2 separate regions of the Homo sapiens genome follow, and region 2 is linked to region 1. The links come from fine-mapping of genetic effects on gene expression. Tissue or cell type: whole blood. Region 1 holds a variant in brackets; the other region holds the start of a gene. All regions are shown on one strand. Distances are between the middles of the regions.

What was found. PIP is the estimated chance that this variant, and not a neighbour inherited with it, causes the effect.
Region 2: MED14 starts here. The variant in region 1 is fine-mapped to the expression of MED14 in whole blood (TOPMed, PIP above 0.99). The same link has a PIP of 0.9 or more in monocytes.

What each region holds. Positions count from the first base shown.
Region 1 is chrX:40,649,227-40,653,226 of GRCh38, reverse strand. It overlaps MED14 (mediator complex subunit 14), which reads left to right. Exons shown (of 31, transcript NM_004229.4): 31 at 1,348-4,000. The coding sequence ends at 1,421. Among named protein-coding and RNA genes, the nearest start is that of CXorf38, 3.7 kb to the right of the region's middle. The variant T/C (reference allele first, on the strand shown) is at 1,706.
Region 2 is chrX:40,733,192-40,737,335 of GRCh38, reverse strand. MED14 (mediator complex subunit 14) reads left to right here and starts at 1,794. Exons shown (of 31, transcript NM_004229.4): 1 at 1,794-2,138. The coding sequence starts at 1,924. MED14OS (MED14 opposite strand) reads right to left here and starts at 1,646. Exons shown (of 2, transcript NR_169211.1): 1 at 1,546-1,646. RefSeq lists enhancers at 582-1,502, 1,503-2,424 and silencers at 1,457-1,546, 1,807-2,186.

The DNA.
Region 1 (4,000 bases):
AAGTAACAGTCCAGTAGAACCTTGATAATAAACACCATTCCTTCACAAGCAGATGGCTGTCATTATCTTATGTGTTTTTATGTATTATGTCTTGTGGAATTTAAAATTAAAAGGAAAATGTTTTGATCCTATTGGGATCAAGCAAGTTTTCTTGCCTATCAATAATGAAAATGTGTTTTTTAAAAAACAATACTTCTCCTTTTCAGAAATTGTTGAGATATTTTGGAAGTGTTTTCATTTTTTTCCCCCCTTGGACTGGGCAGACCTTTGGATTTCCTTTTTCTTTCTGTACCTTCTCATGTGCACAGGATCACTGCACATCCTGCCCTTTGCTGAAAGGCCATGGTTCACATGAGGTCTTCAGTTCTCCCACTTTCAGCCACTGTATACAGTGTTAGACCATGCTGTAGAGGAAGGGATCCAGCTTTTGGTTTATAATATTTAAATACTTGTAATAATTACAAGAAGCAGAGTATTTGGTTTCTTTGAGCAAAGGAGAAGTTGACAGGATGAATCGCCAGCACCCTCCCCACCCACAAATCCTGTTTTTGGATTGTTGGTGTACCATACTTCAGTCTCCCACCCCACCTCCCACACCCATCACTTCTCTTCTGATGAAGTGCTTTTAAGAAAATCATTTTTGTATTTAATTGATTTTAATGTTGAACTCTGGAAGTTGACCATTTCCTTGAATTTTGGGAGAAAACTCCAATAGATGTCAGAGACATGCACTGTCCAGTATAACTGCCACTAGCCAGCATGTGGCTATTTAAATTTAAGTTAATGAAAATTAAATAAAACTTTAAATTCAGTTCCTCAGTCACACTAGCTATATTACAAGTGCTTAATAGCCATGGCACACTTATACAACATTTCCATCATCACAAAAAGTTCTATTGGACAGCGCTGTCCTAAACATTTTTATCTGGCCTTTAATGCAACGTTTGAAAGATACCACCAAAGTTGTAACTAATGCATAAATATAAACTAGATGTTTTTATGATATCCAAAATGCCCTTATAAGCACTCAGTAGCCTTAAAGCCCAACTTCAAAGGCTTATCTAATGCTACAGTGTTTCTAAACAGAAACTCTAGACATATCTTCCTAAATACAAACCTAACTGGGACTTGCTTGAAGTTTCCTCCTGAGAAAAAAAATCCAAACCAAATATAATCTGATACTTAACACCACAGCTTAATCCCCAATAATCTGGGCAGTTAAAATTGTCTTTTATTTTGATCTTTAAAGTTCTCACTAATTTTAGATTTAATTACCCCTTCCCTTACCGGTGTGTTAACATCTTTCCTGTGTTGTGAATAGCTAATGACCATTTTTCTCTGTTGCAGGTGAATGCACAATATTTGCAGCTGTTCGTGATTTAATGGCTAATCTTACACTGCCCCCTGGTGGGCGTCCATAGACACTATTGTTTTTAAACCAGGAAGGCTGACAGATGAGACAACAAAAAAAATCTGAATTCAGCCTTCAGTTTAAAAAAGGAAAAGGACTTTTTTTTTAAACTTTAAGAGCTAAATATTCTAAACTGGCAAAAATTTTCAGGGTGCACTTCTTTCATCAAAATGATCATCCATCTTTTGTATAATGAACTTGTATAGTGTGTTTAAATGGGACACATTTCAAAGGAAATAAATCAGTGTCCGTTTGCCAGTAATAAATTTAATATTCTGTTTTATACTATAAAGT[T/C]ATGAAAATGCCAAACTTGTTTATTTAATTGTTTTCTTATGTTTTGGGTGTAATAGTCCTTTTTTGGTTTTTGTTTTGTTTTTTAAGGCAGGTCTGTCATTTTTGAATACTGTAAAACTGTGATAAACTTTATATTGAAGCTGTATTTTAATATGACCGCTTTGAATCCTTACATGAAATGTTCTGGGAGTTGTTATAAACACACCCCAAGGAAGCAATATTTAATAAAACTAGGTCAAAAACAAAACAAAACAGTGACACTCACTTGTGTGTATATAAACTCTAGAGACATCTTAGGCCCTCCCTTCATCTTTAACCTGGTGGATGGAGCCAGTTATTAATTTATAATAATACATGTCTGAAATTTGACCAAAAACATCTTCTTTATGTCAAGGTTAATATATTTTCTTCAGACATTCCTAACTTGACTAGTGGTTAACATTTAGCACCTTGGTTGTCTTTCAATATATAGGATTTGGGTGAAAAATAAGGAACTTAGTCTTTGAGAAGGGACAGTATGTGGTTCGTATTGATCAAGGATCCCAAATAATGCAATCATTCTCATCTGTTGAGGATGTGGGAACTTTTCTGTCAGGAAAATTTAGTTTACAGAATACTTCTGCATACAACATTAATTAGGAAACAAAGAACTTTAATGCTGTACCTCTGCATGAAGTTTCTGTGAGCTTTCTTTATCTTGCTTAACTTATCCTCCTTTCCTTCCCCACCAAAATTGGGATTGTTCTAAACAATTTCAATTTAATTCATTGTCAACAAAACGATAGAATGTTTTGCTTGGAAGAAACCTGGTCCATTCCCCTCATTGTGAAGAATCCCGAATCCTGGGCCTGTCCAGGGTCAAATGGAGTTTTTGGTATTAATACATCTCTGCAGGGTTTCTTTTTGGAGCACTGTGCTGTCTTTCCTAGTCAGTCAGGGACTTTTTTAAGCTTCAAAGAACATGGTCTGATGCAAAGGTCTTCTACCGACTTCATGGTATTTAGGAAAAATTTTTAAGTGATAATACCATGCCGAGTTACCTGGTCACTGTAATACTGGTTCTCCATTAAAATGTAGATGCTTTGTCTAATTCCACTTCAAGATGATTTAATTGAGCTTCTATAACTATCAACTATCAAATTCTAGTTTCAAGTATCTCACTGTACCTATATCATATCTGTTCTCAACTTTGTTTGATTCTCCACTCATTTTCAATCAGAGTTGAAGCCTTCTTTGCCTTTCTTCTTTGTCTTATTTCTGCCTTCATCTCCCACTTCTCACCCAACTCTGCCACTGTTCAGGAGCAGTTGACTAAACTTTTATCCTTCCTTTAACTTAATCTTTTTATCCTTCTGTTTTTAGTTCTTACAGTGGTAATCACATCAGTTTGGCAATCTAAGATGTCTTTATCAAGGGTCAGCCCTTTTCTATTTGGAGCTGAATCTTTTCTTTCATGTAGAAATCTACATGTATATACAAGAAATGTATTTTTATCTGCAGGATAATATTGTTTCAAATAATTTTATTAAGAGTTAACTTTTTAGGTATTTTCCCTTTTAATGTGGTTTTGAAATGTTAATTGCATTTTTACACATGATGCATTCAGTGGACACTCTTTTTTCCTAATTATAACTCATCTCTGAATGCATTGTGCCAATCAAGAGTAAGATAGGATTCAGTGCGCAAAATTTGCTTTTGATGCTTATTAAGAGTAAACCCATGAATTTGAATTTTTATATTATGCTTGGTACTTGGAATTGATATATACCTTATTAAAGCTTGAAAACATTTAGCATTTGAATAGTAAGTTTCATCACAAATCATGTCTTTTGCCTCTTTTGTTACCCAGGTTCGATCAAGGGGACTGGATGCCCAAGTGATTTTCTCTAATAATCGGGTTGGGACTTAACTTTAAGGTGTTTTCAATGTGATTTTAGTATTTACAGTAATAAATAAAATTTATACAAAGTTTCAGAGAACTACCAACTCTCTAGTTAATTTTGATGAAGATGTTTTCATTAATAGTCTGGTTTAGTATTAATTTAACCTTGAAATAAGAAATTGGTCCTGATTTGCCACCTTCATTTTTCCATCTGCTGAAATGCCATTTCAGAATGTATAAAAGTACTTTCAGAATTAGAAGAAAAGTGAGAGCTTCAGCAGAACGTGTCAAGTCGCTAATAACAGGAGTCGAACCTTATGTTTGAAAATTAACTGAGTGAGTTAAGTGCAAGCATAAACTAAAATTTATATGACTTTGAATTTAAGAACCACTAATAACTGTGTTCTAATTAA
Region 2 (4,144 bases), 84 kb before region 1:
TGGTGGTTACCACCAGAGGCCGGGTAGGACAGTGGGTGGAGAAAGGGGAAATATTAGTCAAAGGGTACAAAGTTTCAGTTAGATAGGCGGAATAAGTTCTGGTGATCTATTGCACAGCAATGTGACTACAATTAGCAATAACCTTTTGTATCTTCCAAAGTTGCTAAAAGTGGATTTTAAATGTTCTCACCAAAAGAAGTAAGTATGTATATCATTTGATAGATGTTAATAGCCTGATTTGCTCATTCCACAATGGTTACATGTTTCAAAACATCACATTGTATGCCATAAGTATATACTATCAATTAAAAATAAAAATAATATTTAAAAATAAGGTAGCTGCCTTCCAGCAACTGTATCTGTAAGGGGTATAAATAATCCCAATGCATTTTAATAACTAGCACAATGATATTCTGTTTCAATGTGCTTTAGGACCACCAAGGGAGGGAACAAGTGAGCTTACACCTTCAGAAGCAGATGAACCGCTTTCAACAATGATAAAGAATTACCCAAGTGATGACAGTAAGAATATTCTAACCTTAGGGAACATCATGAACATCTCTTACACCAAGAGGAGATGAAACTGCAAAAAGATGTTTGAAAGGGGTCGCAGCAACGAATGCTTCTAATAGTGAATCTCTACGTTAGGGCATGTTAGAATCACCTTAGGAAAGTTCAAAAATTCCCCAAGCCCAGACCTCAAGCCAGACCAATTAAATCTGAATCTACAGGGGTGGAACCCATATATCTAAGTATTTTTTTAAAAAACAGCTCCTCAGATAATTGCAAAGTGCAGCCAAGGTTGAGAATCGCTGTTTTAAAGCAGGTACAAAAAATTAAACGTGGACTTTGATGGGGGGGACGGGAGTGTCGGTAGGCATGGATGAACTGAAAAGCCCTTCAGAATAGAGCGGTGACTGCAAGAGCAAGGACAAAAACTATATGAGAGCCCGTGGCAGGGGATTTAAGGGCCGTTTTTGTGTGGGACTGACAGGATTTGGGGGATGGTGACGACCTCAGCATACACCCGACTCTATTAAAATTGAGTTACTCTGCCAGCGGCCCTGTCTCTACCCGCAATCATATTTTCTAGCACCTTTTCCCACAGTTTGGAAAAAAAAAAAAAGGGGCGAAAACGTTCTCCCACGTAACGCGCCGTGGACGTGTATGGGAGGAGCAAAGGCCTGAGAATCACAAGCGCGCGGCCGCTCCCATTTCTTCGCGATTCCAGAACCAGAATTCACGAACATTTAGAGGAGGCCTCCCCTGGCTGTGTTTGTGCCCCACTTAGGAAGCGATGGTGGATTTCTCTGGGCAAATTGTCGCCTTTACAACGCCAGGGGGCGGAGGCGGGAGGGAGAGCGGCGAGGGTAAGGGCGGGGCAACTGCTGACGTTCCCGGTGACGACTCCGGCTCAGCCCTCACCCTGGTTTCCGGCGGCGCGCGGCTCCCTTTTCCGCTCTCCCGCGCGCTCACAGGTACCGCCTCACTCCCACGCGCCCCCCAGCGCTGCGGTGCTAGACAGCTGAGAGAACAGACACAGACCTGTCGGAAGGTCCTCTGCAGGTCCCCCTTCCGCTCTGCCGATCGACTTCCGCCTCGGGCAGTCAACATGTACGTTGCGGCTGTCTGGCGAAGCTGCTTCTGAGCGTTTGCGGAGGCGCAGCTTCCCCTCTGCGGGGCCGCCCTGCTTCCCCCCCATCCCCGCCTCCCCCCGCCCCTCGCTCCTGTCCCTGGGGTCGGCGGACTTCTCGCTACATGGGGGCGGGCTTCCGCGGTCGGCGCACGGCTTCCTGTTCTGAGGCGGCCCGGCGGTAGGCGGTGGCGACTCTGCCCGCTCCCGTTTCGGCGCGGTGACCGAGCGCCCGGGAGGCTCGAGGACCGCATCGTGTGCCGTTGCGCCAAGCCCGGTCCTGCGCCGCCATGGCCCCAGTGCAGCTGGAGAACCACCAGCTGGTCCCGCCCGGAGGCGGCGGCGGGGGCAGCGGCGGACCCCCGTCAGCCCCAGCCCCTCCTCCCCCGGGAGCCGCCGTGGCGGCGGCCGCTGCAGCTGCGGCTAGCCCGGGCTACCGGCTGAGCACCCTCATTGAATTTCTGCTGCACCGGGCCTACTCGGAGCTTATGGTGTTGACGGACCTGTAAGTGCCCCGAAACCCCTGCCTGTTCCCCAGCCCCCCTTCCCGCCCAACCGGCTGAGACGTTTGCACCTCCCTCTCCCCGAGAGGCTGCTGTGTTCTCCGCTGGACTGCTTAGTCTAGAATTTTTGAACTCCTGGGGTTCAGCAGAGGTGGAGAAGAAGCTTTGTATCTGGGGTCTTCCTGGCAACGATGCAACAGAGACTTGTTAATTTTGCGTGTTGTTACACTTCCACTGAAAATTGTGTGAAATTTTTGTCCGAGTTCCCAACAGAACTCTCTTGATTTCTTGGCTGGAATACATAATATTCGAGCTTTTAGAAAAAACTCTATAGATGGGAAATTTGTATTACAGCCTCTTGACGATACGTTTTAAATGTAAGCTGTTATTGCTTCTAAGTTAATGCAGGAGCTACATACGTTGTGTATAAAATACAAATTTGAATTCAAAGTACTTTTTTTCTGGAACTTTTGAGTGTTTGAGGTCTTAATGAAGTTAGTGTGAGTAAAATTTTTTTGTAAGTAGTCTGTTATTTCTTGGAGTATGAAGGGGGTTTATAAATCACCTAGTTACCCATGAAATGCCTTGGGGCATGATTAAGTTGTTAATCCCTTCAGAATAGGATCAGAATATACTAACGAATTTCAGTGTGTGAAGAAAAGGCACCGTAACATTTTGGGACTCTGTTGTACATCTTATAACCCAGGTTCAGAAAAAGTTAATCAGAATTTTATTTTTTATCTATTGCAAGACTTCAGATCAGGGTTATCAATTGAGATACATTAGTATGCAGATATTAGGCTCTAAAGCGTCACAGTAATTTGTTTTTAGAGACTGATAACAGATACTTGTTTGCAGATGACTGAAAGAGTAGGCTCTACTTAACTCCTGTAAAACGTCATTCTCAGTTTTGATGTATTGTACTTTTTTGAATGGGACAGAAAAAAGTAGTGTTAAAGAAGCCTACCCATGGCTAATGAGAAATTTAAATCGCTGTCAGGTTTAGGGACTATTATAATGATATACCTCTCTGCACCATTTATTGTTGGATTTCATAAAAATCCAAGAATATCCATGAGAAAGTTTCATGTATGTGCCTATATAGAGCTGTGGGAAAAAAAATGTTGAAAACTGCTGCTATCGGTGGTGTAATTTGCTTTTCCATAGGGGATTTGTAGAAATTCCTTGAATTGTGGTTGTCTTTTTACTATTTTAGGACTTGGCTTATGAAGAGAGGAACATCTGTTTTATTGCCGTAGAATAAGTATGTAGTTATAGTCCCACACCCTTTATGTGATGGTTCCCATATTTGTATCTCCAGCACAGACCTCTCTGATGAACTCCAGACTCTATATCCAGATGCCTACATTTCAGTATCTTGATGGGCATTTCAACATAGCAACTCCAGCACCAAACTCCTGATTCCACTGTCCTCCCTCCTGCAGAACCTTCTTTGCTATCTCACTAGTCTCTCCATTCTTCCTGTTGTTGCTCAGGCCAAATATTTTGGAATAACTCCTGGCTCCTCTCTCTTCACATCCTACATACATCAGCAAGTCCTGTTATCTTTGACTTCAGAGTCTGACCATTTCTCAACACTTCCACCAAGTGCTGGTCCAAGCCACCTAATCCTTCACCTGTGTACTGCAATAGTCAGTTCACTGGTATCTCTGTAGTTCCCTTGCCCCTTCTATAGTTTCTTCTCCACAAAATAGCCAGGATGATTCTTTTAAAATTTCTCTGCTTAGAACCCTTCGATGGTTCCCCATCTCACTGAGATTAAAAAGTGTTGATAATTGCCAGGTGTGGTGGCTTATACCTGTAATCCCAGCACTTTGGGAGGCTGAGGCAGGGGAGGGGGTCACTTGAGCCCAGGAGTTCGAGACTCTGTCTCTACCAAAAATAGAAAATTAGCTGGGTGTGGTGGCCCAAGCCTGTAGTTCCAGCTACTTGGAAGGTGGAGGTGGGAGGATTGCTTGGGCCCAGGAGGTTCGCTTGAGCCCAGGAG